Linked DNA regions of Homo sapiens. The protein of the gene in region 3 purifies or fractionates together with the protein of the main gene of each other region. This does not show direct contact. Each region holds a gene or a part of one and is shown on either strand. Other genes may lie near its edges. The genes, in order: RALGAPA2, VIPAS39, MTMR7 and VPS33B.

What was found.
Region 1: the proteins of MTMR7 (region 3) and RALGAPA2 purify together in Homo sapiens (affinity purification with mass spectrometry; 2 studies listed by BioGRID and IntAct, with this or other methods). This does not show direct contact.
Region 2: the proteins of MTMR7 (region 3) and VIPAS39 purify together in Homo sapiens (affinity purification with mass spectrometry; 2 studies listed by BioGRID and IntAct, with this or other methods). This does not show direct contact.
Region 4: the proteins of MTMR7 (region 3) and VPS33B purify together in Homo sapiens (affinity purification with mass spectrometry; 2 studies listed by BioGRID and IntAct, with this or other methods). This does not show direct contact.

What each region holds. Positions count from the first base shown.
Region 1 is NC_000020.11:20,709,198-20,716,680, forward strand, and holds the start of RALGAPA2 (ral GTPase-activating protein subunit alpha-2), read right to left. Parts: upstream 3,448-7,483; 5' UTR 3,284-3,447; coding exon 3,178-3,283; intron 1-3,177.
Region 2 is NC_000014.9:77,426,328-77,433,868, forward strand, and holds the end of VIPAS39 (spermatogenesis-defective protein 39 homolog), read right to left. Parts: coding exon 7,515-7,541; intron 3,843-7,514; coding exon of another isoform or gene 3,792-3,842; exon of another isoform or gene 3,763-3,791; intron 3,441-3,762; coding exon 3,354-3,440; intron 2,769-3,353; coding exon 2,679-2,768; intron 2,148-2,678; coding exon 2,043-2,147; intron 1,310-2,042; coding exon 1,289-1,309; 3' UTR 348-1,288; downstream 1-347.
Region 3 is NC_000008.11:17,297,958-17,305,498, forward strand, and holds part of MTMR7 (phosphatidylinositol-3-phosphate phosphatase MTMR7), read right to left. Parts: intron 7,441-7,541; exon of another isoform or gene 6,563-7,440; coding exon 6,422-6,562; exon of another isoform or gene 4,324-6,421; coding exon 4,197-4,323; intron 2,533-4,196; exon of another isoform or gene 2,268-2,532; coding exon 1,905-2,267; 3' UTR 1-1,904. UniProt on the Homo sapiens protein: Lipid phosphatase that specifically dephosphorylates the D-3 position of phosphatidylinositol 3-phosphate (PtdIns(3)P) and inositol 1,3-bisphosphate (Ins(1,3)P2).
Region 4 is NC_000015.10:91,012,323-91,019,863, reverse strand, and holds part of VPS33B (vacuolar protein sorting-associated protein 33B), read left to right. Parts: intron 1-1,978; coding exon 1,979-2,059; intron 2,060-2,799; exon of another isoform or gene 2,800-2,839; coding exon 2,840-2,901; intron 2,902-5,430; coding exon 5,431-5,480; intron 5,481-5,992; coding exon 5,993-6,060; intron 6,061-6,193; exon of another isoform or gene 6,194-7,430; intron 7,431-7,541. UniProt on the Homo sapiens protein: May play a role in vesicle-mediated protein trafficking to lysosomal compartments and in membrane docking/fusion reactions of late endosomes/lysosomes.

The DNA.
Region 1 (7,483 bases), on a different chromosome or scaffold from region 3:
AATCCCAGCCACTCAGGAGGCTGAGGCATGAGAATTGCTTGAGCCCAGGAGGCGGAGGTTGCAGTGAGCCAAGACGGCACCACTGCACTCCAGCGTGGGTAACAGAGTGAGACTCCATCTCAAAAAAAAAAAATACAAAAATGAGCCTAGTGTGGTGGTACATGCCTGTAGCCCCAGCTACTCCAGGGGCTGAGGTGGGAGATTACTCGAGCCAGGGAGGCCAAGGCTGCAGCAGTTGAGGCAAGGTCAAACTACTGTACTCCAACGTGGACAACAGAGCAAAGATCCTGTTAAAAAAAAGACATGGAATCTTTGCTGGAGCAATATGGTAATACACAGGGTTTTTTGGTTTTTGTTTTGTCAACAGTGTAGGAAGAACTGGAAGTCACAGGACCTAACAGCTCTTCGTTCTTCCTCTAACATAAGTAAACCGTCTGCTACATGGCTTGATACGTGTCAAGCCTGCCTGTGCCTCAGCTTACCCCTCTGTAAAATAAAGTTAATCATACCAGACCAGTCTATAGCCAGGTGAAAGTATCTACATCCAAATTGGAGTTATTACCATGATACTAAGAAATACTCTACTTCCACAGCTAATTTTATGTTTCTCACCCAGTTGTTTTAAATACAGACTACTTTTTAGGAAAAGAGAACAAATTCATCACTATTATCAAAAATAAGAAAGACGGAGAAAAATTACCTATCAAAATACTGGTCCTATCCTATTAATGGTGGGAGATATGTAATGGGAAAGAAACTGTTAAAGGCCTACTTCAAGCTGAAGTCATTTATTCATCATACTCACAATAATCCTTTAAAAAGCAAACATTACCATACCCATTTTACAGAGCAAAGAAACCGAGGTTCAGAGACAGGCTACGTAACTAGCTCAAGTCATGAAGCTGCAGGCGGCAGGGACAGGCTGCAAATACCCAAGTAAGTGGCATAATCTTTGCATACTTAAAAAAAAACTTTATTATCACTTGAAGATAAAATATATGAAAAGCAAAAGTGTTATATAAATACACACATAAAAATACAATAGTAATTACTATTCATTTCCTTCAAATAGTTTCCTTAATCTTGGCTTAATTCCTAACTTTCAGTTCAAGAGGCCTTTGTTTTCTAAGTAGACTTTTTTTCGAGTAGCAATGAAATAGAATATGTGATTAGGTAGGAACTAGTGCATTACGTACTACTTTTTAAGTCTTTAATAAATCACAGGAGCAAGTGAAAGTTTACATTAAATATTATGACTAGAATTCCTCAGACACATTTTACAAAAATCTAGTCCCTACAAAGATCACAGTAATAAACAAAGCAAACTGGGCCACTCCACTAGTAAGTATATCAACAAAAAACATACACCTAAGGAAATATAAAAGAACCTCTCCATGTTACAAAACTGAGGTCATGATGAGTTCAGTGAAATGATAAAAGAAAGTTCCCTAAAATAAGACCTACACCTTAGAGTGAAACTACAATTTTACAAACTTGAAAAGAATCAACTTTCTCAGAATGGGAACAATGTACTGTGTGCTAAGAAATAACCTGATCTAGGTTTACTTGATTCTGCCTTTATAAAATGTAGCCAACTTAATCTTGCAGACCTGGACAGAACAAAAATTTAAACGCTAAAGCACAGAAAAAGGCTCAAAGTATCAAACGCTTTAAAACACAGCTCAACTCTCCTTTATCAAAAATGTCCCTGCAGTAGGTGTTAATCAGTCACTACCAGGAACTCCACACAATGCAACCTGTGTATTGTGCAACCTGTGCGTGCATGGTATCTACAGGAAGTAGAAAATTCAGTTTACCAAGAACGCCACACTTCACTCTCCACACTTCACTCTCAAAAGTCTTGAAAACGAATCCCTGTAACAGCAACTAATTTACATTTCATTTCAAACTGAACAAGTCAGTGTAACCTCAAGGTATGTGAGATTGTGAATAACTTCACTTGGCAAAATCAGGTGTGGTTTGGTTTGGCTTGGGTTCTTCTCCCCCTCAGAGGTAGAATATAAATAGAAATAATCAGCAACTTCTGATCTCATGAACAAGATCTTTATTTAAAATCTTCACACGTTAAATCATTTTATGCAATATTCTTTCAAGTGACAGACACATTAGCACTAGGCGATTTTTGTGAATTTTGGGACTAAAAGACACCTGGAAGAAACATAAGGTGTTCTTTCCTTCGCCACCAAATACACAGGTAAGTGTGTCTATAGATAGCAAAGGTGTTTTCATCCCAAAGAAAAGTTAAGACTTAGGATGTAAAAAAATACAGAAAACAAAACATAGCCTAGGCGAACCAGCTACAGATCACATGCAGCAGGTGACAGGAAGCCTTGTGGACACCTCACACCCACAGGGGCGAGCTTCATCACAGGTCAACTCCAAGCCCACCTGAGCTCCTCAGAACCTCCACCTGGCAGGCCATAAACCAGAAGGTGGCAGACAGCATCACTGTCATGCCGGTAATAAAGGAGAAGCAGCCTCCCTGAACCCAAGAAAACCACCCCTCTCTCCAAGCAGGAAGAGAAGGCCCCTTCACACCAAGGACACAAAGAAACTGAAGCAGCCAGACCCAAAATAAAAATTAAATTTAAAAAGCAGCATGGGAAGACAGATGACAAATCTGTGCTGGGATCGCCTGGAATCTCGGTCTATATGGGGGTCTCACACTCAAAAGTAAAAATAAAATTTAAAAGGGGGATGACAGAGATGAGAGCCCAATTAGGTCTGTGCTGGGTTCACTTGGGGTCTCGGTCTACTTAGGGTCTCAGACTCAAAAATAAAATTTTAAAAATGAAAGGGGGAGGTGACAGTTCAATGTGTGCACGTGATGACCACTTGGGATCCAGTTCACTTGCTGGGAGGACAGGGGACAGGTACCTCTGTGCCCGGCCTCCAGGTTCTCCGGGAGCGCAGGCGCCCAGCGAGAATCTGGGCTAAGTTTAACTCGAGGGCGACGGGAGCAGTGCCCGAGGGCCAGGCTGCGGCTTTCTGGAAACAAAGCCCCGGGGGTCCAAGCCCAGATCCAGGGAAGGGGGTCGGACGCCCACCCATCCCCCTCCCCAGCCTCCCAGCCACCGACCCCTGCACAGAGGAGCGCCCTCCCGGCAGGTGCCCCTAACCCGGCGCCCCGACCCCCGCGCCCGGCGCGCGCCTCACCCAGCAGCGCCCGCAGGTGCTTCAGGCGGGTCAGCACGTCCTTCTTCGGGTCCAGCACCTTCTGGGTGGACTTCTTCACATCCCCGTGGCTCCTTCGGGAGAACATCCCGCGGCAGGAAGCCCGGGCCCCGCCGGCGGGGCAGTAGGCGCCTGCGCCACGCGAATCAAAGCATAGGGTCGAGGCCGGCGCGTGTCGCGCGGGCCACTCGCCGCCCCCAGCCCCGCTGCTGCCGCCGCCGCCGCCGCCGCCGCCGCCTCAGCTGTGTCTCCAGGAAGGAGGGGCGGGCCGGTCACGGCGAGGGGCGGGGCAGGAAGGCGGTGTCGACGGGGAACCGAAGGCCCCGCCCCGCGGGAGGTGCCGGCCGGCCCCTTGGGCGCTACGCACGCGCACACAGGCCGAACTCTCCTGGCGGGACACTAGCCCGTCCGCGCCAAAACCTAGCGGGGACGCGCTCAGAGGGCCGAGAAGGCGCCTCGAATCACAAAGGAGCTTCTCTCACGCACACGTTGTACTACAAGTCCCGAGATGCACCGCGAGACAGTCCTCCAATCAGGCTGGCGGTCTTCGGCACGATGGGAGTCAGTGGGCCGGCATTGGGCACGTCGCCCCGCCCTGCCGCGGGCCGCAAGTGCTCCTGGGAAATGAAGTTCTCCAGCAGGCGACGCGCTGCGACCTCTTTTCCAGGGTCGCAGAAGCGCAGGGCGGCCTCTGTCCGTCCCCTGCCCCGGCAGCCTAGATCGCCCGTGGTTTCACTCTCCCTCCTGCGCGCCCACCCCATTTTCCTCTAGTGCAACGTGAACCACACACGCCCAAAAATCTCAGTAAGAAAAGTGTCAAGGCTTTTCAAATGCAAACTATTTTTAGGTTTAGCTTCTGGATTCACACAAGGGAGCGAGTCGAAGCCCCTCTGACCGTGCCGAAATCGCAGCTCTAATTTCACACTAAAATGAGTTGCTTTGGCACTAGGGAAGAGCGTGCCCCGGTGAGGAGTTCAGCCGGCCCCTAGGTTCCTGGAACCCAACCTCACTTGGGGTATGGAGGTCGCTCGCTCAGAGGGCTCCTTGGGATCTTGCCTCTTTGTAGGAAGGGTGCGTTCTCTGTTGTGCAAGCCACATGGCGATCCAGTAGCAGAACCAGAAATAGAACCTGAGGGATCTGACTCAGGCCTGTATACTTTTTAAAGCCAGGCGCTTATTCCCTGGGGCAAGACTTTGAGCTGAAAGATGGTCAGGAGATTTCTTACACTGTAGGATTGTATAGTGGCATCCGAATCCTGCAAGTTTTGACATCCTTTCAGCTTTTTCAGCAAGTACTTAAGGTAGAATCACGTGGTTTCCATCCAAATTGGGACAACACAACTGTCTTTTTCTCCTCTAGCTGAACTGTAACTTGAGGGAAGAGACAAGGATTTACACGCCTTTGTATCCCCATCCCTCAGCACAGTATTTGGCCCATAGGGTCACTCAATAAAAGTTTATTAAATGAAATACAATAAAAAGCTAAAGTAGTCCTACATATTTCAACCAGGCAGGCGAAAAGGAAAAAATAAATAAATAAACTCACAGTTTTAGAGCGTCTCTCTATTTTTAGATTTGTGTAATATTCCTTTGTATAGACACATTCATACAAAGGAATATTACTCAGCAATAAAAAAGAACAGACTACTGATAAACCCAATAACATGGATCACTCTCAGACCCGGAGATGAAAGCCCCATGCTCAAGATGATGGCAGAGCGGCCCTACCAGCCTGAGTCCCCAGATGATAACAGATCAGGACCACAAACTTCTAAAAGTGTAACAAGAGAGCAAAATAATGTCTTATCTTAAGTCAAGGCATTTTGAGAGTCTTCGTTACAGCAATTGAGCTTGTACCTGATTACACATAGTAAACCACAATGTTCACTGTCCAATTCCTTTAGGAGAAGATACTTTTCCTTACACTGATTGAAAAAATAGAATATACTTGTCTTAGGAAACTCCATTTTTTTAATTGCAAAGCAAGCTGCCATCATCATCAAACATTTATTGAGCACCTGCAATGTGTAAGGCATGATTCTAAACCCTGGAGATAAAAGATGTATAAGGTGCATCCTCCTGACCTCCAATGCTTCCAATCCAGTTAAGGAGGCTGAGCGATTAGATACATGTGGGAATAAATGACAGTGTACAGTGAACATGTGATACTATCAAGCTTGGTAATGCCAGAAACAGGCATCTGTGCATATAAATTCATCGCACCCATCATATCTAGCCTTTACCCAGTAATGAAAATGTAGAACTCCAATTCTTCTCTTAAAAAGGAAGAAACATATAGTATTATTATGTTGGTACTTTTTCACCCACTTGCATATTCCATATGGCTCTTCTTATTTTCTGTTGTTCTTTCTAAACTCGTTCCTGCTGGGCTGTGAACTCTTTGAGGGCTTCACTTGCTTTGCACTGAATTCTTTATCCCTGGAGTTATAGAGTGCCGAGTGTTATGCAGACATTAAGTGTTGTTGAATAAATGTCCTACAGTAATCAGCAAATAAGAATAATGAGATCAAAAGTTTAAAACTTGCAATGCAAATTAAAACTACTCTGAAATATCATTTGAATTAGAAAAAACAAGCAAACAAAAAACCTCTACAGAGACAAGGTGTGATAACACACTCTAGTCTGGTGGCAGAGCTATAGAAAACATAGCTGGTAGAAATGTTAGATGCTACAACTCTTATGGAAGGAAATTTGGCAAAAATAAATATTTGCCTTTTGACCCAGAATTTCAATTTCTTTTTTTCTTTTTTCTTTTTCTTTTTTTTTTTTTTTTTTTTGAGATGAAGTCTGGCTCTGTCACCCAGGCTGGAGTGCAGTGGAGCTATCTCGCCAGGTCCAAACGATTCTCCTGCCTCAGCCTCCCGATTAGCCGGGATTACAGGCGTGCGCAACCACGACTGGCTAATTTTTTTGTATTTTTAGTGGAGAGGGGGTTTTGTCATGTTGGCCAGGCTGGTCTTGAACATCTGACCTCAGGTGATCCATGGGCTTTGGCCTCCCATGTTTTGTTGTTTTTTTTTTTTTTTGACAGTCTTGCTCTGTCCCCCAGGCTGGAGTGCAGTGGTGTGATTTCAGCTCACTGCAACTTCTGCCTATCAGGTTCAAGCGATTCTCCTGCCTCAGCCTCCTGAGTAGCTGGAATTACAGGCATGTGCCACCATGCCTGGCTAATTTTTGTATTTTTAGTAGAGACAGAGTTTCACCATGTTGGCCAGGCTGCTCTTGAACGCCTGACCTCAAGTGATCCACGGGCCTCAGCCTCCCAGAATGCTGGGATTACAGGTGTGAACCACCACACCCAGCCAGAATTTTGACTTCTAGGAATCTACCCTGCAGATATTCTAATATATAACACTGGAAGGATTTAAAAAAAAACCTTAACATTAATGCCTACCTAAGTGGGATAGAGGATGAGGTGGAAAGGACTCAGTGTCCTCTCTGAGTATATCTTTTTATATTTTTTTCATTTTTGAACCATGTAAATGTTTTCCATATTCAAAAATTGAAACAGAAAAAGACAAGCCTGAAAATAAAAAATAAATGGAAAAAATAAAACTAACAATATATGTAATTGGTAGGATAACTCTATGGAGAAATAAATATAAAACCATGCATGGAAGTTTATTCCTTTCACCACTATTTATAATAGCCAATGTAGTGGGTTGAACAGTGCCCACCCTTCCCCCCAAAAAGATATGTCTATGTCCTAATCCCTGAAAACTGTGACTGAGACTTTATTTGGCAGAAGGATCTTTGCAAATATAATAAGATCCTCAGTTATCTGGGTAGACCCTAAATCCAATGACAAATGTGCTTGTAAGAAACAAAAGAAGTGAAAACATAGAAACAAAGGAGAAGGGCACATGAAGACCAAGGTAGAGATTGAGGTTATGGAGCCACAAACGAAAAGACCCTTATAGCCAAGAGAAACTGGAAGAGGCAAGAAAGGATTCTCCCTTGGAGTCTTCCAGAGGAAGCCCAACACCTTGATTTCAGACTTCAGGATTCCAGAACCGTGAGAAAATAAATTTCTGTTGTTTTAAGCCACGCAATTTGTGGTAATCTGTTGCAGCCACTCTAGAAAACGAGTATGACCAGATACCAGAGAGAACCCTGTGATTGTCTAACAAGGTACTTATATACACATACATCTATAAGTGGCTAATTTAATCCAGTTCATCCACACAGTGTAGCACTATGGAGTACTATGCAGCTGTTTAAAAATAATGGGAAAATTTCGCGTGTACTGACTTGACATAATTTTCCA
Region 2 (7,541 bases), on a different chromosome or scaffold from region 3:
GAGAGCGCCACTGCACTCCAGCCTGGGCGACAGAGCGAGACACCATCTCACAAACAAACAAACTCTACAAAATTTTAGATTATCTAATGAATCCAGAGAAAGAAAGGGACTCACCCAGCATCACATAACTATTTAGTGGTAGAGCTGGAAAAAGTCAGGTCTTGTGTCTCCCAGCACCGTGCTGTTTCTGTTAACCACACAGCCCTGCTTTGCCATAGCACTGTTACTCTATAACCTGACATGTGCCGACAGGCTGCTAAATGCAGTCACTGAGGAAGACTTGTAATGATCCTAAGATCCTGAGCAATTATTTCATCATTCTACACAAAACCACCAGGAGCGGGAGAGAAGGCACCAAGGAAGAAATACCTTTATTAGGAGTCTAGGCATGTCAGAAAAACCCAGTTCAGTCACAGAAAAGGAGGCAAATATTGGTACAGAGCAAGAATCCAAGTGTGAAAATAAAACCTCCATCTAAATATCCTAACAGAAATGCTGCTGAATTTAGCCCAGGTGAAACTTCTGAAAGCTCCTGGTGAAATGAGATTTTTGCATAAAGAGAGAGCTCTCCAGCACTGCTGCATCTGAGCTTCTTATAAAGTGACGGGTCTTGGCCAGCAGTAGAGGAAGAGATAAAGGGGATGTCTCATCACCCAAGCAAGGTCGTCTGTGTTCAAGTGAGAGAAGAACCTTAGGGTTTTGGACAGAGTAAACTGGGGCAGCAGAGGGAAAATGGCTGAGGAAACACAACGTCTAGGCCATGTGTGGCATAATGTGGAGGGGTCTGTGCAGTCTGGTGTGAGTGCATCTCCAGGAGGTCTTGGGAAACACTGGCATTCCTTCCTGAGGCCATTTTGGTTCTGTTCTGACTTCATTCAGAGCAGAACTGCCAATGTCCAGCGCCAAGTCCTGGATCATAATTAGCTGAGTGGAATGCAGTAGCCACCCTATGACTCCCATACCTCTTCCTTTCTGGAGCAGTCACTTTTCTCAGACCAAGTGAGATCTTACCCAGTAGGGGCCCAATCTAGAAATCACTCCCACCTTCATATGAGCACCAGGTGGAGAGAATCATTCTCATGACTCAAAGCTTTAGATCTCGATCCTCAGATGATGTTCCTTGGACAGAAGATCAGTCTGAAGTTATCTGTGTCAAGAGTAGCTGGCACTGCCCATGGGTAATGGGCCCAAGCGATGTGATGCCGCAGCTCTCCCAAAGAAGAGCTCTCTCTGCTTTCACAGGCAGGAGAGGAGGAAATGAGGCAGGCTTCAAGGTAGTCAATGCCACTTAATTCTTCCATCGAATTTGCTGTGGAAAGAGGAAACAATGAAAGTGTGTGATCAGTTTTCACTTATCCCTACAGCAAGGCAGAGAAAATGCAACAAAACAAGGCTCAGCTAGATAATGTAAGGAAAAGAAAAAGTAGAATCAGATCAGGAGGTGGGGGATGTTGAGAAATTTTTTAAAATATATGGGGGAGTTCATTTATTCAAAGATGCATTAAACACCTATTTTGTATTTTACAAGCCTAATTTTGGTCATTTGACCCTAAGGTAGGTTCCAAAATACCTAACAGGGAACTAACTTTCATATTAACAAAGAGCTCAGTAATTTCCTGCTGTGAGAGACGAACCAGCTGTGCTCCCCAGGTAGCTAACATCTATTTCACCCACTTCTTATTTTCAACTGGTAGGTCCCATCCATCCCCACGAGACCATACAGTTTGGATATTCTGAATCTGTAACATGTTTTCATACTTTCAATATTTAGTTTCTCCTACATGCTAGGTTTAACTATTATCACAGCATTACAGTTAAGTCTTAGCTTGAGGTCCCCAGATTACCCCCCTATCATACCGCATCTCAGGAGTAATTTCTGCTATTCAAAGCAGTGCTTTTGACATTGTGGCCAGAGGAGAGCCTTACATCCATGTGGCTTAGCCAACTGCAATCCTTCCAGACCTTGGGAACATACATTTGGTACTATTTTGTGAACTGTCTGTCTCCTGAGCCTGCTGGAGGGGTGAACTGTAGCTGCTCACCGAGCTGCTGAGAAGAGCATCAATCTTCTCCTCCTCTGCTGATCCTTTATCTACCTTACTCCTGTATGCTAGCAACTGTTGACGATCCTTCAGGTCCCGGTAGGTCTGTGCATCAAAACAAACAATACAAACCTCCAATCAGCCTCTGTACAGGGTTCTTTTTGCCCAGGATGGTCTCAAACTCCTGGGCTCAAGCAATCCTCTCTCCTTAGGCTCCTGAGTAGCTGGAACTACTGGTGTGTGCTACTGTGTACACATGAGGGCTTATTTCTTTTTGTCATTATCACTTTGACCCAACGCTCAAGGAGAGGCTAAGAGGCTATAGTGGGATAACAGTGGGGTCCAGTGCCCACAGAACTCCATGTTGGAGAGAAGACTACACAGCTTGTATAGCTTGATTTAGTTCTATGAATTCTCCAAGTACGACAAGTTTATAAAAACACAGAGAAAGCAGTCAGAGGGCTGGGAAAATAATACAGGAGTGCTGGTCTCCAAACAAACTCTTGCCAGATTATTCTGTCCATTCAGTCAAACCTGGTGGGAGCACCTCAGGATCTTGGACAGAGAATATTATAATCCCCACCCTGCTTCGCCACTGAGGATCTAACGGAGGACTCCCATTTCTTGGGGACTCACATCAATGACGACATCATGGCACTTGAACTTAGTGGCTAAGTTCAACTTCGTGTCCACATCTTCCACCAGATTGACATACTCCTGTAATATCTGTGGGAAGAGGTACTTCCGATTAATGATTCAAACACCCATAAGGCACAGAGCTCTACAAGGTAGAAAAGAAAGTCCTGAAGAAGGCAAAAGAGTTCAATAGCTAATGTTTCCAGTTTCCATCATCAACCACAGGACTAGTTCTGCAATGGGAATGAGGTAACGCTACACAGTACTTCCATGCTGCCTCAGTAAGCAGGAAAGAGCACACTTCTCCTGATCCTCGAGCCAGATACACATGCCAGCAATGAGTGCTCTAGCTGTGATCCAGTGCTCTGCTCATTTCTCCCTGATGTCTTTTCTCCACGAGTTCTCCTTTTCTATCATTTGAACAGTACATCAGTATTCCACTTGGGCTAACACAGTAGATGCTACTCAGAGAGGACAGTTTGGAATTGTTTCTAAAGGGGAGAAAGGGAGAGAATTTCACTCCCTGGCCTTTTCTGTCTTGAGGCCTATTGCAGCCATTGTGCTGCCTTTAAGGGAAAACAAGAGCAGATCGGGTCTCCCATCACTGACCAGTAAGAGGCTTAAAGTTAGGTCTCCAAGAATATCCTGTACCCAACTCTCTTCAGGACCCATTACCTGCACAGGGGCATTGTTCTTGTGCAAAATTTCGACAACCCGATGGAAGCCAATGGGTGCTCTCTTCTTGGTATAGCCCAGCCAGTTCTGAAAGAGGAAGATGGGGTAGCGGCAGGTAGGCCAGGCACACTCAACACATTCTAGGTTAGTCTATGTTTTACGATCAGACCAGAATAATGTGGTGGGTGAGTGGGGGTGCTGAGGGATACAGAAATAATGAGAAATGAATTTTTCAGAAAAATCAAGGGATTTGAGAGAGTGGAAATGAATCAGGTTTGAAATAACTTCTTAGATCTATAGAAACGAATGCAGGGAAAAGTCTTGAAATACTACTAAATGGGATAAGTAACTTACTTAATATTTGTAGTATGAACTTATCAATGTAGAAAATAATTCCATCTTCCATATCTTTGTAAGTACAGATGTTTATTTGCAAATTCATGAGGGAAGGTCTGGAAAGCTACCCATTAAACTTTTAACAGTGTTTGCCTTGAGAAAGGGGGTGAGATAGGAGTAGGTAGAAAATGAAAAAGGAACTTCACTCTTTCTATACTTTAATACAGTGTTTGATTTTGACAACAGACACATATTGCTTTGTTAATATAACTAATTAAATAATTAACAAATAGGAAAAACAGAAAATTTTTAAACCCATAATGGAAAAACAGATATTTAAAACGTAAACTAATTCATATTGAACCGCCAAAGATCCCACATAGCCAAAGCAATCAATGTTAAAGAAAAACAAAATGGAGGCCAGGTGCGGTGGCTCATGTCTGTAATCCCAGCACTTTTGGAGGCCGAGGTGGGCGGATCACTTGAGGCCAGGAGTTCGAGACCAGCCTGGCCAACATGGTGAAACCCCATCTTTACTAAAAATACAAAAATTAGCCGGGCAGGGTGGCGCATGCCTTTAATCCCAGCTACTCGGGAGGTTGAGGCAGGAGATTCAGTGGAACCCTGGAGGCAGAGGTTGCAGTGAGCTGAGATTGCACCACTGCACTCCAGCCTGGGTGACAGAGCAAGACTCTGTCTCAAAAAAGAAAAAAAAAAAAAAAGGGGGGGTAGGGGTAGGAGGCAACATGCTTCATGATTTCAAATTATATTACAAAGTTACATATATTAATCAAAACAGTACGGGGCTGGCATAAAAACAAACACATAGACCAGTGGAATAGAATAGAGAGCCTAGAAATAAACCCAAGCATATATGGTCAGCTAATTTTCAACAAAAGCACCAAGAGGACCCAATGGGGAAAGGATAGTCTCTTCAATGAGTGGTGCTGGGAAAACTGGATTTCCACATGCAAAAGAATGAAATTAGACCTTTATCTTACACCATACACAAAAATCAACTCAAAATGGATAATATACCTAAGCATAAGACCTGAAGCCATAAAACTCATAGAAGAAAACATGGGAAAAAGCTCCTTGACATTGGCCTTGGCAATGATTTTTTTGGATATCACACCAAAGGCTCAGGCTACAAAAGCAAAAATAAATGGGATTACATCAAACTAAAAAGCTGCGCATGGCAAAGGAAACAATCAAAATGAAAGGCAGCCTATGGATTAGAATATTTGTAAACCACATATCTGATAAGGGATTAGTATCTAAAACATATAAAGAACTCACACAATGCAATAGCAGAAACAAAAATTGCCAGATTTAAAAATGGGCAAAAGACTTGAATGGACATTTCTCCAAAGAAGACATGGAAATGGCCAAGAAGTACATGAAAAGGTGATCAGTATCACTAAACATCAGGGAAATGCAAATCAAAACTATAATAAGATATCACCTCACACCTGTTAAGATGACTGTTATCAAAAAGACAAATGATGTGTTAGCAAGGGTGTGGGGAAAGGGAACTCTTGTACCCTGTCGGTGGGAATGTAGATTGGTGTAGCCAATGTGGAAAACAGGCTGCAGTGAGCTACGGTCATGCCACTGCACTTCAGCCTGGGTGACAGAGTGAGACCCTCTCTCAAAAAAGTAAAAATAAAAATAAAAATAGAACTATCATATGACCCAGTAATCAATCTTTCTTTTGGGTATATGCCCAAAATAAATGAAATCATCACCTCATAAAGATACTTGCATTTCCACATTCATTGTAACACTATTCATGAGATGTTAACTATTCATGAAATGTAACTATTATAAATTATTGCTGAGAATTTAAATATCTGTAACTTACAAAAATAATAAACAAATAAATAATTCCCTCTCCCTAAAAAATAGCCAAGATAAGGAAACAACTTAAGTGTCCATTGACAAACAAATGGATACAGAAACTATGGAACTATGGTATATATATACATACATGCTGGAATATTAGCTTTAGAGATCTAATTACAAGATGAGGACTGTAGTTAATAGTACTGTACTGTAATCAGGAGTTTTGCTAAATGAGTAGATTTTAGCTGTTTTTGCCACAAAAAAATAATTTGAGATGATAGATATGTTAATTTGCTTCACTGTAGTAACCATTTTACTCTCTACATGTATCTCATAACATCTTATCGTATAACTTAAGTATATACAATATATAATAACATTTATCTTAAAAAAAGAAGAAAGATAACAAGTGTTGGCAAGGGTATAGAGAAAAGGGACCCTGGTACACTGTTGTCGGTGGGAATGTAAATTAGTGCAGCCATCATGAAAAACAGTATAGGCGTTCCTCAAAAATGTTTAAACAGAACTACTATATGATCCAGCAATCCCACTATTGCATATAAATCCAAAGGAAATGCAATCAGCATCTCACAGAGACATCTACACTCCCATGTTTATTGTGGCATTATTCACAAGAGCCAAGATATGGAAACAACCTAAGTGTCCATTGATGGATGAGTGGATAAAGAAATTGTGGTACATATATACAATGGAATATATTCAGAACTTAAAAAATAAGGAGATCCTGACATGTGACAGCATGGATGAACCTGGAGGACATTATGCTAAGTGAAATAAGCCAGACAGAAAGGAAAATAACCTCATGATCTCACTCATGTAGGATCTAAAAAAGTCAAACACATAGAAAGTAGTTTCCAGAGGGGGAAAAAAGTAGGTCAAAGGATACAAAGTTGTAGTTATGCAGGATGAATAAATCTAGAAATCTAATGTACAGCATGAGGAATACAGTTAATAATAGTGTAGTGTATACTGGAAATTTGCTAAGAGAGTGAATTTTAGGGGTTCTTACCACACTCACAAAAAATGGCTAACTGTGAGATGATGGGTTAATTGGCATGACTGTATAATCATTTCACTATGTATATGTAGATCAAAACATTATGTTGTACCTTAAATATATACAATAAAAATTAATTTAAAAAAAGGTAAATCAGTAAAGACATGACAACCAAACTCAATCCAAGGTCTTTGATTGGATCCTGATAGAAAAAAATACAGAAGCAAACCAAAAGTAGCTATAAATAACTAATTTAAATATGGACCATGATTAAATATGTATTATTATATTAATGTTAAATTTTTTTAGTGATAATTATATTGTGCTTCTTTTTTTTTGAGACAGGGTTTTGCTCTTGTTGCCCAGGCTGGAGTGCAATGGTGCAATCTTGGCTCACTGCAACCTCCGCCTCCTGGATTCAAGCAATTCTCTCGCCTCAGCCTCCTGAGTAGCTGGGATTACAGGTGCACACCACCACACCCAGCTAATTTTTGTATTTTCAGTAGAGACGGGGTTTCACCATGTTGGCCAGGATGGTCTCAAACTCCTGACCTCAGGTGATCCACCCGCCTCGGCCTCCCAAAGTGCTGGGATTATAGGCGTGAGCCACCGCGCCCAGCCCAATATTGTGCTTACGTAGTATTAAAGGAGAGGTGTTAAGATGTCTACAACTTACTTTCAAATGATTCAGAAAAGAAAAACACATAGGTATAGAAAAAGAGAAAGCATACATGGCAAAATTGTTAATAAATTAGTGATGTGGATAAAGACTATTATACTATTATAGTATATATTTGATTATTATATGAACTATAAAATTCATTCTTTCAACTTTTCTTTAGGTTTGAAATTTTGGAAAATAAAAAGTTGGAGGAAAAATGTAAACCGGTAACTAGAACTTATAACATGATAGAACCCTTCTGTCTCCCAAGGCCTCAGCAGCACAGGGGCAGGGCACACACCTTTGTGGTGAATAGGGCATCTACATC
Region 3 (7,541 bases):
ACATTTTAAAACATCAAATATTTATACTATTTGCTTTTCAAATAAAAGCATAGTGCTGTTTGGCATAGATACTTTGTCATTTTTTAAAAAATGTTTATTGTTTTTATAGACATACACTGTCAAACGGAAGAAATTAAAGCCACATCCTCAATATTAGGCAACAGAGTTTCTAAGAGTGGACAGCTCCAAGAAGGTTGTGAAGTGAGTTATGTTATGTTATAAAAATGTGAAAGCCATTACCACTATATCCTAAGTTTTATTTTAGCAAGGTATTCCCTATTACATATAGTATATTGCAGAAAATGAATAAACATTCCTTGTACTTAATTTGGGAACTGCTCAGCAGAGAATGCCCAAATTTTATATTCTGAAAGAATTAATTACACTTGCTTTATTTTTTACATTAACAGTACTTTTAAATCACAGTTCTCTAATATATTCTATATTTTTAAATATGATGAACACAATTAAATGTTTTCATTTATATATATTGCAACACTCCCTCCAAATCTTTCATACTAGAGAGATCAGCAATGTTGCTTTCTTGCCCTCGTCCTCATTTCAGCGAAATGTAATAATTCTCCCATTAAAAAAAATCAGATATTCAAAATATTGATGTAAATTGTAAAGTTTAAATTAATCCTTTCACATATTCAAAATATTGATCTAAATTGTAAAGTTTAATCCTTTTACATTCTAGAATGTACTAATATATTAAAACCATACAGTGTGAATACCATTTATTTATGTCCAAACATGGCCACTTTTCCCCACTAAGTTTAATTTAGGTCACCTAGTGAAGTCTTTTTTAACTCATAAGATAGGGGAGGGACTCTCCCTTAAATGTGCAGTGTAACAAAACAAAAATTCTTTTCAGAACTTTCAGCAGTCAGTGGTCATGAGATGTTACTAAGGTTAATTAAACCATATTAGCCAGTTACATAATTTCTAAAATGATAGATTACAAAACCTATTCCCTTCATTAAACAGACATGACAACCCAATTCTCTGGTTCTTGAAACTGGATTTTCACTCACAGATGTTTTATCTACTAACTTTATAATGTGATACTTTGAGATCAGGCTGGTGGCTGGCCCACACTGTCGGTAGTGTAGTCTCTAGAACAGTAATAAAAGGTTATTACAAGAAAGCTGATACTTAAATTCATATGTAAGACCAGGAGAATGAATGTTGCTTCTACCTCGTTAGCTATTAAATCAGTGTTAGAGAAAAAGTGAGATACAAGGTTTAGCATTTTTAAATAATGAGGAGAAACAGACTATAGATCTCAGAGAAAAGCAACAAAATTATTCTCACAATTCAAAATATATGCTCCAAGGAAAAGTTAAAGTGATGATTATGCCTGAAAGATAAGCAATTAAAAGCTCCTTAGGAATGCATCTATTAACTAAAAAGGGTGCATCTCACCAATGTGCCTGTTTTTAGAAATATGTATAAGAGGGTCGGAAAGGAGGATAATGTCAGATGCTTTAGAAAACACAAAATATGCATCTAGAAGTGAACTAAAAGAATCATGATGATCACAGATGTGAGGGAAAGGAGTGGAGGCTTTTTGAGAGATGCATGCTATGACAAGGAAGATAGATACTGATCACTTCAGGTAATGACAGAAGTAATTGCTCTGCAGTGAATATAATTTTCATAGTCTAGGGTGAGCTTCAAAATGGTGAATAATTTTCCTTATATTTGATAAATGAAATGACTACGTCCTCTTCAGTATCTAAGAAATCAAGAACTGGGCACTTTTTTCCCTTTTCATAGCTGCATTAAAGTAGTTCTCAATGACATGCACCATTTCCTGTTTTTACAATAAACCACCTTGTTCCCTTGTTTTTGGAAGTGTTGCTTATGTGTCCTTTACTTTGGAACTCCAAAGGGAAACTTCAGGCAGTGAGAAACACGGCTTCATCAGAATCCCGGTCCTTGCCACTATCTTCACTCGGTGCATGCTCACCACCACTTGGAGACCGACAGCTCAAATCCTCCACCCCGGACTCTTGGTCACTGTTGGCTGACAGATCTGGATCTGAACTTTTCAGATTGTCTTGGGTTAGAATCAGAGCAGAATCTTCATCGCCTTGTGAAGGGCTCCGGGATGGAAATGATTTCATATTCCCACTGTAATCCTGGGGAGTGTTGGCTATGCTGTTGTCTGAGGTAGAAAACCCTGAGTGCTTGCTGGGCTCACTTTGCTTACTCTTCACCTTAGTGCAATTTAACTGGACCTTTTGAATTTTTTCCAGCCTCTAAGAAAGAAATAACAATTTCAGGGGAAAAATCATAAATAACTTATCTTTTTCTATATATGCATGTCTTTAGCATTTGTTACCTCCCACGTGGGTATAATGTTAAGAACATGTGACTCAGAGGGATGTGAGTTCAAACCTGGACTTCACGACCTTGGACAAAATCTGTGAGGCCTGCTTTATCTCTAATGTAAGGATAATACCTGCCTTGACATAGGTTTTCTATAATAATAAACAATATAGCACAGTTGAAGCACCCAGTGAACCCTAGTCTCCCTCTTTTCTATACCTACATGGTTTCAAATGATGAGTCTCATCCCATGAACTCAAAAAACATTTTTTAGAAATCATGAATGAAGTGTTTATCATCTAACTTTTATACTGAGATACAATTCACTTACCGTGAAACTCACCCTTTTAAAGTATACAATTCAGTGGTTTTTAGTTATATTCACAAGGTTGTGCAACGATCACTACTAATTATAAAACACTGTCATCACCTCCCCTGCCGAAAGAAAACCCCATACTCATTAGCAGTCATTTCCCATTCCTATCTCCCCACAGCCCCTGGCTACTACTGATCAACTTCTATCTCTATGGATTTGCCTAGTCTAGATGTTTTATATAAATTGAATGGAATCATACAACATGTGGATTTTTGTATCTGGCTTCCTTCACTTAGCTTATGTTCTCAGAATTCATTCATGGTACAGCATGTATCAAGTACTTCATTCCTTTTTCTGGCTGAACAGTATTCCATTACATGGATATACCAGATTTTGTTTCCCCATTCATCATGTTATGGACACCTGGGTTGTTCAGAATACATTTCGCCAGATTTCATGTTTTGATGTTAACACAGGAGGTGTTATAAGATCAAGTATTATGTATTCATTCAAAACCATTCACTTAGGTTATGTGCAAAAGCACTGTGCTGGGCAGTGTGAGGAAAAGAGATAGATAAATACAGACCCAGCCTTAAGGAACATGGAGTAGTGGAGCAGAGAGAGGCAGAGTTCATGCAATGTAAGAATTTCAAAAAGGCAAAAGTTCTTGAAGAGGGATGAAGTGGTAAGGTTAGAAGGAAAAGAACAGAGTAAGTTTCAGGGAGGAAGGAACATTTTAACAGGACTGTGAAAGATTTAAACTTGGACATTCTGGTGATAGCTAGTAAGCATTCCTGACAGGAGTAGGGACAGTGAGAGGACAAACACAAAGGTAGGAAGGTCTAAATTGTATACAAGCAGCAAAAACCATTAAATATTAGCATGGAAAATAAAGCTGAAAAGAGAAAATCTCAAATGCCAGCCTAAGGAATTTTGACTTTGTAATAAGGAAGAGCCAGTTTTAAAGAGCCAGACTGCTAGAATAGACTAATAGAATCCTAAGATGTTCATAAACTACATTAGTACCATTGGAAACAAAGTTATCCAATTAGGAAAAGCATTTTATTATAACCTCCCTGTCCAAGTACAGGGAAGTTCATAGAAGCCAAAAGATAAGACTTTACAGTCAGTCTCCCCTTTACCAATTATAGATTAATATCATAGTTAACATAATTTCTAAAAGTGGGGAAAGAGTTTTACAAGTACATATATTTGATTTTATTCTGTTACTTTTTCACACTTTCCAGAAAAAAATTAATTTTACTACTCTCAAATAACAGTAACCAAACAAGTTGACCTAAAATAAGGAACAACCAAAAATTTGTGGAACTGAGCCACAAACCAGATGTGTGAAATGCATTAAATGCCTAGGTTTGGGCTTCGGTTATCTGAGTCCTGACCTGGATGGGGTTGTGTTTCAGGTGTTCTACTGACTAAAAATGTGAAATATTTGTATTGCACTGAATCTTAAGAGGCTTTCATGAAGCCTTGCTCTTCAAGAAATAAGCACAGAAAATAGATTAACAAAGCAAGTATGTCTTACTTCTTCCAGGGCCTCTAGTTCTTCCTCTAGCTGCTGAGTTTCTTCCTTCACTGCCATTAGGTAATCTGTAACTGACTGTCGGGGCTGCATCCCCTTTTCAAAGCGGTTATACATTCCACTCCAAAACCTGGAAAGGATGGCAAAGCGTCGTGATACCACCTTATCACAGTCTGAAAATTCACATCCTCAAGTCTTCTAAGGTATCTATGATACCACAGTCTTAATAATAACCAAATGCAAATTTCAGCCTCAAAAAAGCCACTACTTAAGGTAATAATTTCATGTTGATGTTTTTTTTCTTGGGTCAGTAAATGCCTTTTGGGGAGAATAAGTTTATGAAAAGTCTGCCTGTATATATGAATTAGCACAGAATACATTTTTCTAAAATTAAAATAGTACATGTAACCATTACCTTTTAAGAAAATGGCTCTTAGTTTTGAACTTTGAAATTGTATATTTAGAATCTTTCAGCTACAAAGGGAATCTTAAACTTGCAGCTTTTATCTTTTGTATCACGACCACTAAAAGTTGACATTTGCATTGGCAATAACCCCCCCCCCCCCGCTTTTTTTTTTAATGGCAGAGTTTCGCTCTTGTCACCCAAACCGAAGTGCAGTGGTGTGATATCGGCTCCTTGCAACCTCCACCTCCCGGGTTCAAGCGATTCTCCTGCCTCAGCCTCCCAAGTACCTGGGATTACAGGCATGCACCACCATGCCTAATTTTATATTTTTTTTAGTAGAGACAGGGTTTCACCATGTTGGTCAGGTTGGTCATGAACTCCTGACCTCAGGTGATCCACCCACCTCAGCCTCCCAAAGTGCTGGGATTATAGGCGGGAGCCACCACGCCTGACCAATAAATCCCTTTTTATCCTACACAAAAAAGCAACTGGAGTGCAAATGAGAAAAATGGTGTTATCACAGAGTTACCCTTAGAACCACTATTTTATTTATGTAGATAAGTAAGTACTTTGAGGGCAAGGACTTGGTGTCATTGTTTTATCTGCAGTGCCCAGAACAGTGTTTGATCCTCAATAAAATATGTGTTGACTAGCTGTTAATAATAAATTAGTTGCAATCCAACTGGTCATATCTCAACAGCTCTTAAAACTTGTCTTACATGCACTATGGAGGCTTTTGTTTAGTATGATAGAATATTCTGCTATAAATTCTGAGAAGATAATTAGATTGAAATAATTAAGAAAAAAAACCTTGAGAAACGAAATCTATACAGGGAGAAAAGCCATCAAGTCTGTGTCGGGAGTGAGTAGGAAGAAAGAGATGGGGTTTCTGTTTATTCTGCATGAGTCTTTTGATGTTGCTGACCTTTGAGTTTTTTCATATTATACAAGCCTAACAAGGAAGCCAAAGGAAAAAACATACGTATCTAGCACATACCTAGTAGAACTTGTAGGATGCCACCCTGCTCTCCCCATTCTCCCCATACATACAATCTTTTTTTTTTTTTTTTGAGATGGAGTTTTGCTCTTGTTGCCCAGGCTGGAGTGCAATGGCACGATCTCGGCTCACCGCAACCTCCTCCTCCCTGGTTCAAGTGATTCTCCTGTCTCAGCCTCCCGAGTAGCTAGGATTACAGGCGCTCACCACCATGCCCAGCTAATTTTTGTATTTTCAGTAGAGACTGGGTCTCCCCATGTTGGCCAGGCTTGTCTTGAACTCCTGACCTAGGGTGATCCACCCGCCTCGGCTAATACATACAATCTTAATGTAATTTCCACAAGGGAAGTACTTCCAGTAGGACTTAATTCAGTGGAGACAAAAAGGCAACCTATTACGTTGGTGCAAAAGTAATTGCGGTTTTTGCCTTTTTGTTGTATAACGGCAAAAACCACAATTATTTTTGCTCCAACCTTAACACGTCATGATCACTGTTGAAACTTGTGATTCCACATTTGACTTAAGGCATTTGCATTATTCTCTTTCATTTGCTTTTAAAAAAATAAATTGGAACTTAACCTTTTTATGATATCATTATTATAAAACATCACCTCCTGAAGAAAATTCCACATTTAGGAGGAATAAAGAGGCAGAGGAGTCACTGGCAAAAATACCAGATCAGATATTCAAGCATCTCCCTCTGGTGTCTTTTGTGTCCAATAAAAGCCTCAAAGATCAGTGTCATACACTTTGACCTCTGAATGTTAAACGGTACCAGAATCCAAGTTCATACCATGGCTACAAAGTTACCAAGGATTTACATACTTGTACATGAAGTTACATGGTGTTGTAGGGAGATGAAGGGTTCCCTGAGTCTGGCTGTGATCAGCTCTAAACAGAGGATTCAGGTAGTCGGCCCGATTCTTCCACAGGTGAGCCCATAATGAGTATGTTCTTTCTTGAATCCTGTTATAAAGAAAATAAGTCTATAAATGACCTATTTTGGTGCTTACACACAGTAGATATGTTATATTAATGCTGGAAAGGAACTAATAATTGTTACCTGAAAACCACGTGTCTGTTCGATAGCAGGTAAATGTATCATCTTGGTGACTTCATGGTATAGAGGGAGAACACTGTAATAATCTCAACTTCACCACCATCTGTACTGGCCTTGACAAGGTGTTCGATTCGTGTGTGTGTGTGTGTGTGTGTTAAGCTGTTCTTTTGGGGGGAGTTTTTTCCCCCAAATAGTCATTGGACATTTATAATTTGTCACACACTATTCTAAATGTTCCACGTTTTCTCTCATTTAATCCTCACTGAGTTGCTGTGAGCTCTGTCTAATTTACAGATGAAGAAACTGAGGAATAGAGAGAATAAGTGGTTTCCCAAAGTCCTATAGCTAGTAAGTGGAAAAGCCATATTCAGACCCAAGCAGATACTGTTAGAATTGGCTAGTCAGGTACAAGAAAACAGGTGACCCTAAAGGATACACTCTGCTCCTTCTAAATCATCTCCATCTCCATGGAATCACACTTGAGCTTCCTTAGAGAAAACAAACTAGTATCCACTACAAAAATTAATTTTCTTTATGAGTCCATTTCATTTGAACTGATCATTCCCCAAATTAAATCTGATAATGTTGTATACACCATAGTTAAAACCATTTCATTTTATGAAAATTTAAAAAATGTTCTCTCATGTATACTGCCTAAATCACTTTGTTGTAAGTTTTTTACTGTCACTTATTTTAAAGTCCACAATTTATCTACTTTTACCCTTGGATAAATCAATACAGTTTTAATCTGAATAAATTCTGGCTTTTATATTTGCTTTCCCAATTAAATTTGCAATTTTTATTATGGTAGCATAGCCACCAAATATATCTAACCTTTTCCTTTTAAATGCAAAAACCACTTTTTTGACTCCAGAAAATTCCCTT
Region 4 (7,541 bases), on a different chromosome or scaffold from region 3:
ATTGCACTCCAGCCTGGGCAACAAAAGCGATACTCCATCTCAAAAAAAAAAAAATTATATTACACATTCCATGTATCTCTTAATCTATGTTTGCTCACACCACCACCAGCCTAAATCAGGCCTCTTTCATTGCCACATGCTTGCGCTCTGTGGATGGTTTTATTAACTCCCTAAGTGGACTCCCTGCCTCCTGTTTCTCTGGTCTTCAGATTCCTCTAACATTTCCAGCTGATTGGAATGCTTCAATACACAAAAGCTTTATTTTTCCCTGTTAATTAGAGGATCAAGGCCACACTCCCCTAAGCTGGCATTTGGAGCCCTTCCTGCTCAATTCTAACCAACTATTTTGGTCTATTTTTCACCATTCACCTACCTCAAGATTTCCTACCCTCTGTTGACCATTTTGAGTTTGGGAAACTAAAAAATAAATAAACATTTAAAAAGGCCAAACGTGGTGGCTCACACCTATAATCCCAACAGTTTGGGAGGCTGAGGCAGGTGGATCACCTGAGGAGGTCAGGGGTTCGAGAACACCCTGGCCAACATGGCGAAATTCCATGTCTACTAAAAATACAAAAATTAGCCAGGTGTGGTGGCATGCGCCTATAATCCCAGCTACTCGGGAGGCTGAGACAGGAGAATTGCTTGACCCTGGGAGGCAGAGGTTGCAGTGAGCTGAGGTCGTGCCACTCCAGCCTGGGCGACAGAGTAAGACTCTATCTTTAAAAAAAAAAAAAAAAAAAAAAAAACAGGCCAGGAGCAGTGGCTCACACCTGTAATCCCAGCACTTTGGGAGGCCGAGGCAGGTGGATCATGAGGTCAGGAGTTCAAGACCAGCCTGGCCAAGATGGTGAAACACCGTCTCTACTAAAAATACAAAAATTAGCCAGGTGTGGTGGCAGGCACCTGTAATCTCAGCTACTCGGGAGGCTGAGGCAGAGAATTGCTTGAATCCGGGAGGCGGAGGTTGCAGTGAGCCGAGATCACGCCACTGCACTCCAGCCTGGGTGTCAGAGGGAGACTTCATCTCAAAAAACAAACAAACAAAACAAAACAACAAATAAGATTTAAAAAAAAAGATTTCCTGCTCTCTATACTGTTGACTTTTTGGGCTGGATCATTCTTTGTGGTGGGGGCTGGCCTGTGCATTGTTGGATGTCTAGCAGCACCCCTGGCCTCTACCCACAAGATGCCAGTAAAACCCCTACCCTGAGTCAGATAACCAAAAATGTGTCTGGACATTGCCAAATGTCCCTCGGAGGGCAAAATCGTCCCCTTACTACACAGCCTATGCTCTCTTTCTGATCTTTGCTGGACTGTCCTCTTCATCCATCCATGTCAACACCCTACTCATTTGTGAAGGCCTGGGTGAGAGGAAACTCCCAGTGACTTTCCCCTCCCTGTCACTAACTGTGACCTCTCCTTCCTCTGAACAGACATTGAGATCGGTGTCAGGAGTGGTGGTGCAGGAATCGTATGACAGGGATTGTGGGGTGGGGGAGTGGAAGGGTGATGGGGTGAGGACTGTCCTGGGTTTGCTAAGTTTTCTGCAGTGAACGTGTGCTATTTTATTTTGTACTTAGGAGAAAAATGCAAGGTGGGGTTCTGTTGTGTTTGGCTTTGTTCAGCAGGAGACCAGGGGTGGTTAGGAGCCAGAGTGGAGGAGGCAGCAGAGAAGGGGAGTGAGGTGCAGACCAAGGTCACAGGTGAGCAGAAGGGTTGAGTGACAAGGAGTTAACCTGAGAAAGAAGGTGGGATGTCTTCTTCCCACTGGTACAGAAAACGAGAAGGCAAAATAGGTAAATATACAGAGAAGTGTCAACTGTGGATACAGATAATAAATAAGGTGACGGGCTAGACGATACTTAGTGCCCTCCCACCTCAGAGACTGTTTCTGTTAGATGGGTGGCTGGGCCACTTCTCAGCTGCGGAAGCTCATGTGACCTGTGAGTGACCCAACATATTGTGTCTCCTTCAGCTTCCTGGAAAAAAGGATTTATTCATTGAGGCAGATCTCATGAGCCCTTTGGATCGAATTGCCAATGTCTCCATCCTGAAGGTACTGTCCCTTTCCCCTGGGGGCCATGCCCCTCTTTAAGCAGTTTTTCTTTTGATGAACAATACAAACTACTGAAGAGTGACTACTCTTGTAGGGCAAATATAGGGTAGCTTAATTGGGTAGAAAAGGGAGATTGATGCTGTTCGTATTTTTTTGTTTTGTGTTTTTTTGCGGCGGGAGACGGAGTCTCTCTCTGTTGCCCAGGCTGGAATACAGTGTAGTGACACAATCACAGCTCACTGCAGCCTTGACCTCCTGGACTCAGGTGATCCTCCTGCCTCAGCTTCCCAAGTAGCTGGGACCACAGGCATGTGCCACCACACCTGGTTAATTTTTAAATTTAAATTTATTATTTATTTTTCTGAGTCTGTTTACTACAGAATATATATATATATATATATATATATATATATATATATATATATATATATATATATTTAATTTTGTAGAGATGGAGTCTTGTTATGTTACCCAGGCTGATCTCAAACTCCTGGGTTCAAGTGATCCTCCTACCTTGGCCTCCCAACGTGCTGGGATTACAGGCATGAGCCACCACACCTGGCCCATACTGTTTTTATATTGTTTTATTTTAGGTTTTTCTATTGACAGTTTGAGGAAAATTCAGTGGGATGGTCGTCAGGGGAGCATAATTAGCATAATTAGGAAGCCCTCAATAATTAGCATAATTAGGAAGCCCTCAAGAAGTCCCCTATCTTCGTGTCACACTTTGTGCTTTTCAGGCACTCTTATGTCCATTGTCTTATTGGATTCTCTCTGTAGCAACACGAAGTAGACAAGCTATACAAGGTGGAGAACAAGCCAGCCCTCAGCTCCAATGAACAGTGAGTGTCTGGGAGAGTCTGTCCCTACTCCAAGCTGGAAGAGGTCCCTAGGGGCACGTCTGCCTTTCATCTGTCCTTGGCTGAGATATATGGTTCACCTCCCTGAACTTTACAATTTCATGGCTAGGTTAATCTTCTGTTGTTTTGTTTTGTTTTCTGTAGTTTCCTTTCTGTGGTTTCTTGTCCTCTTCCCTCTCTAATTTATAATACAGTCTATAACCAGATTGACTAATCTTTCAAAATTATTTTCATCGTGCTTTTCTCAAGAACCTGCAAGGCAGCTGGGTGCGGCGGCTCATGCCTGTAATCCCAGCACTTTGGGAGGCCGAGGCGGGCGGATCTTCTGAGGTCAGGAGATAGAGACCAGCCTAGCTATCATGGTGAAACCCCATCTCTACTAAAAATACGAAAATTAGCCAGGTGTGGTGGCGTGTGCCTGTAATCCCAGCTACTCAGGAGGCTGAGCCAGGCGAATCGCTTGAACCCGGGAGGCGATGAGTTGCAGTGAGCCAAGATCGCGCCACTGCAGTCCAGCCTGGGTGACAGAGCAAGACTCCATCTCAAAAAAAAAAAAAAAAAAAAAAAAAGAAGAATCTGCAAGGCCTCTTATTACTTGCTGAAGATTGTCCACATTATTTGTCATAGACTTCAAGGCTGTCTGCAGCGTGGCCTCCCACGTTACCTTTCCAGCCTTGTCTCGTGTGTCCCCTTCAAGCCTCTGTTGACATGTGCTTCCACCTGCCTCTCAGCCTGTGCCTTCACCCTTTTCATCACTCCATTCGCTCTGCCTGAAATTCTCTCCTGTCCTCACTGCTCCTATAAAGAATGTCCATCCTTCAGAGCCCGGCCACCTCCTCCATGAAGCTCTCTGTTGCCCTTCCAGTCTAGAGTGATTTTCTCCTCTGGATTTCCATGGCATTTTGTATTTGTCCTGTTCGCTCGGCATGTAGTCATGTACAGCTGTTGTCTTGATTTTAAAGTATTTCTGAAACTTAATTAATGTACATGCTTTCTTAGAAGAAAAAATTCTCCTGGATACATGGAGAATATATCCATGTACCCCAGTTTGAAAAAAAATATTTTCTATTACTTTCTTATATTTAAATTTTTTTAATTAAATTTATTTATTTTCAGAGACAGGGTCTCACTCTGTTGCACAGGCTGGAGTGCAGTGGTGCAATCATAGCTCACTGCAGCCTTGAGCTCCTGGCTCAAGGGATCCTCCTACCTCAGTCTCCTGAGTAACTGGGATTACAAGTGTGCAGCACTGCATCCGCCTATAGTTTTATTTTATTTTATTTTTTTGAGTAGGAGTCTAACTCTGTCACCCAGGTTGGAGTGCAGTGGCGGGATCTGCCTCCCAGGTTCAAGCAATTCTTCTTAGCCTCCCAAGTAGCTGTGATTACAGGCGCCTGCCACCTTGCCCAGCTAATTTTTGTATTTTTAGTAGAGATGGAGTTTCTCTATGTTGGCCAGGCTGGTCTTGAACTCTTGACCTCAGGTGATCCGCACTCCTTGGCCTCCCAAAATGCTGGGATTATAGGCATGCACCACCTCGCCAGGCCTTATAGTTCTTTTATTTTACTATTATTATTTATTATTATTTTATTTTATTTTATTTTTTTTGAGACGGAGTTTAGCTCTTGTCATCCAGGCTGGAGAGCAATGGCGCGATCTGGGCTCACTGTAACCTCCACCTCCTGGGTTCAAGCGATTCTCCTGCCTCAGCCTCCTGCGTAGCTGGGATTACAGACATGCGCCACCATGCCCAGCCAATTTTTGTATTTTTAGTAGAGACGGGGTTTCACCATGTTGGCTGGGCTGGTCTCAAACTCCTGACCTCAGGTGATCCACCCGCCTCTGCCTCCCAAAGTGCTGGGATTACAGGTGTGAGCCACCATGCCCAGCCAATGTTTGTATTTTTAGTAGAGACGGGGTTTCACCATGTTGGCTGGGCTGGTCTCAAACTCCTGACCTCAGGTGATCCACGCGCCTCTGCCTCCCAAAGTGCTGGGATTACAGCACTATTATTATTTTTAATAGAGATGAGGTCTCACTGTGTTGCTGAGGCTAGTTTCGAACTCCTGAGCTCAAGCAATCTTCTCACCTTGGCTTCCCGGAGTGTTAAGATTACAGGTGTGAGCCACCATGCCCAGCCTTTATTTTTAACTGACAGATAATAATTGTATATTTTTATGGGGTATTCTTATATTGTTTTTCAGCACTGATTGTTAATATACTCCATATCTGCATCTTTTTTTGCCCACTGGATTGTAAATTATTTGAGAACAGGAACTTTTGGGTCCACCATAGGGCCAGTAATGTACCCAGCTCATCACATTATACCCATTGTGTTGAGAGGTATCTTCTGTGGTTGGTATATGGTGGACCAAGAGAATAGCATAGCTTTGGCTAGGATGAGACCTGTAGGGCAAATGGCAAAAGAGTTGGTATTGTTTCAGTTTCTTCTAAGTTGCTATCCAACTTGATAATTCTTCTTCACTGTTTTTTTTTCTTTCTCTCTCATAGATTGTGCTTCTTGGTCAGACCCCGCATCAAGAATATGCGATACATTGCCAGTGAGTGTGCCATGGTACTATGTGTAACTGTGGGAAAGGGCGGGCAAAATCTAAGGGCCTTGGCCATAAGGACCCTCTAATAAGAAAATAATTGTTTGAGTTGGCCGTAGCACTTGTGGAGGATGTCTGCTTCCCCGCTTCTTTTTTTTTTTTTTTTTTTTTTTGAGACGGAGTTTCACTCTTGTTGCCCAGTCTGGAGTGCAATGGCACGATCTCGGCTCACTGCAACCTCCGCCTCCTGGGTTCAAGCGATTCTCTTGCCTTAGCCTCCCAAGTAGCTGGGATTACAGGTGCCCACCACCAGATCGGGCTAATTTTTTGTGTTTTTAGTAGAGACAGAGTTTCACCATGTTGGCCAGGCTGGTCGCAAACTCCTGACCTCAGGTGATCCACCCGCCTCAGCCTCCCAAGTGCTGGGATTACAGGCGTGAACCACTGTGCCCGGCAGCTTCCCTGTTTCTAGCATAACAGATGGCCCATGACTTGCTGGGCTGCATTCCTTCTCTCTGTAGGTCTTGTCAATGCTGACAAATTGGCTGGCCGAACTCGCAAATACAAAGTGATCTTCAGCCCTCAAAAGGTGAGTTTGGATCCTGGAGGAAGTGGGATAAGGTAGAACAGGACTGAGGACCGGGCAGGGGTAAGGGGCCAACAGCACTACCTCCCTGTCTCCGTTCGTTTTCTGTTGCTGTAACAGAATACCTGAGACTAGGTAATTTATAATGAACAGAAATTTATTTAGCTCATGGTCTGGGGAGGTTGTGAAATCCAAGACTGTGGGGCTGGCATCTGGCGAGGGTCATCCCATGGCAGAAGGGTGGAAGGTGGAAGCCAGCACATGAGACCAAGAGACACCCAGGGGCTGGACTCGCCTTATAGCAACCCACTCCTGCCATAAGGACATTAATCCATTCATGAGGACTCCTCCCTCATAACCCAATCACCTGTTATTAGGCTGCACCTCCCAACACTGTTGCACTGCAGATTCAGTTTCCAACAGATGAACTTTTGGGAGACACATTCAAACCATAGCACTCCCTCAAAGCAAATTATGTGTGATTGAACCTAATACCTGTCACTAACGCATCCTCAATTCATTAACATATCCTCATTTGTTTAGCAGAGGGTCTGTCATCATACTGTCCCAAATAAAGTATTGTGGAATTGTGCGAAGAGGCCTCTACGTAGATTTTTTTAAATGAAAAGCTTCACGCTTGCGAGGTAGAACCTGCTCTGTATCCCTAACACAAACTCTAGTATAGTAATGGTGCACAATGTTACGGCTTTCCAGTGACTTTCTCCCTGTATCCCTTTAAGAATAAATACGATAAATCATCACCCTCCCTCTTCCCATCCGCTATGCTTATAAGGATGTGGCTGGGCTGCCCCTGGGTTACTAGAACCATGCCACCATATATTGGAAAAGCCTTTTCTTGCACAGGAAAGGAACCTTAGAGACTGTTTTACTCCACCCCAACTTTGAGCAGCTGAGGGAACTGAAGCCCATGCTCACACAGTGAGTTAGCACAGCCAGAGTAGAGCTCTTCCATCTTTAACTCAATAATTGCAGTACATATTTGGAGGTCCATCATAGTCTGTCCATTTCTTGATTCCATTGAGCTCCCCTCTCACCTCCACATCAGCTACGTGCATCCTCAATCCCAGTGATTGGGAGGAATGACGTTCCAGGCCTTTACCTTGCCAACCATAGGCCTCTAAAGCTACAGCAAGTAGTGCATGCATACTTACAGAAGGTAGAAGCTAGACTAGGAAGAACAGGGATTTATTCCTTTTCAATCTTTCTAAGAAAATTCTAGAGAAAATAGAGGCAGTAACTAAGGACTGAAGCCTCTGAAACCAGGCTGTCTGGATAAAATCCACCCTTGAGGCCTTATTACCTGTGTGGTCTTGGGTTAGGTACTGAGCTGCTCCGTGTCTCGGTTTTCTCATCTGGAAGATAGAGTTGATAATAGTACTTATCTTTTAATTTAAGTGAGATGACTTTGAGTCTCTGTTGAAATAAGAAATCAAGTGGGACCCTAGGCTTATATTGTTTTCTCC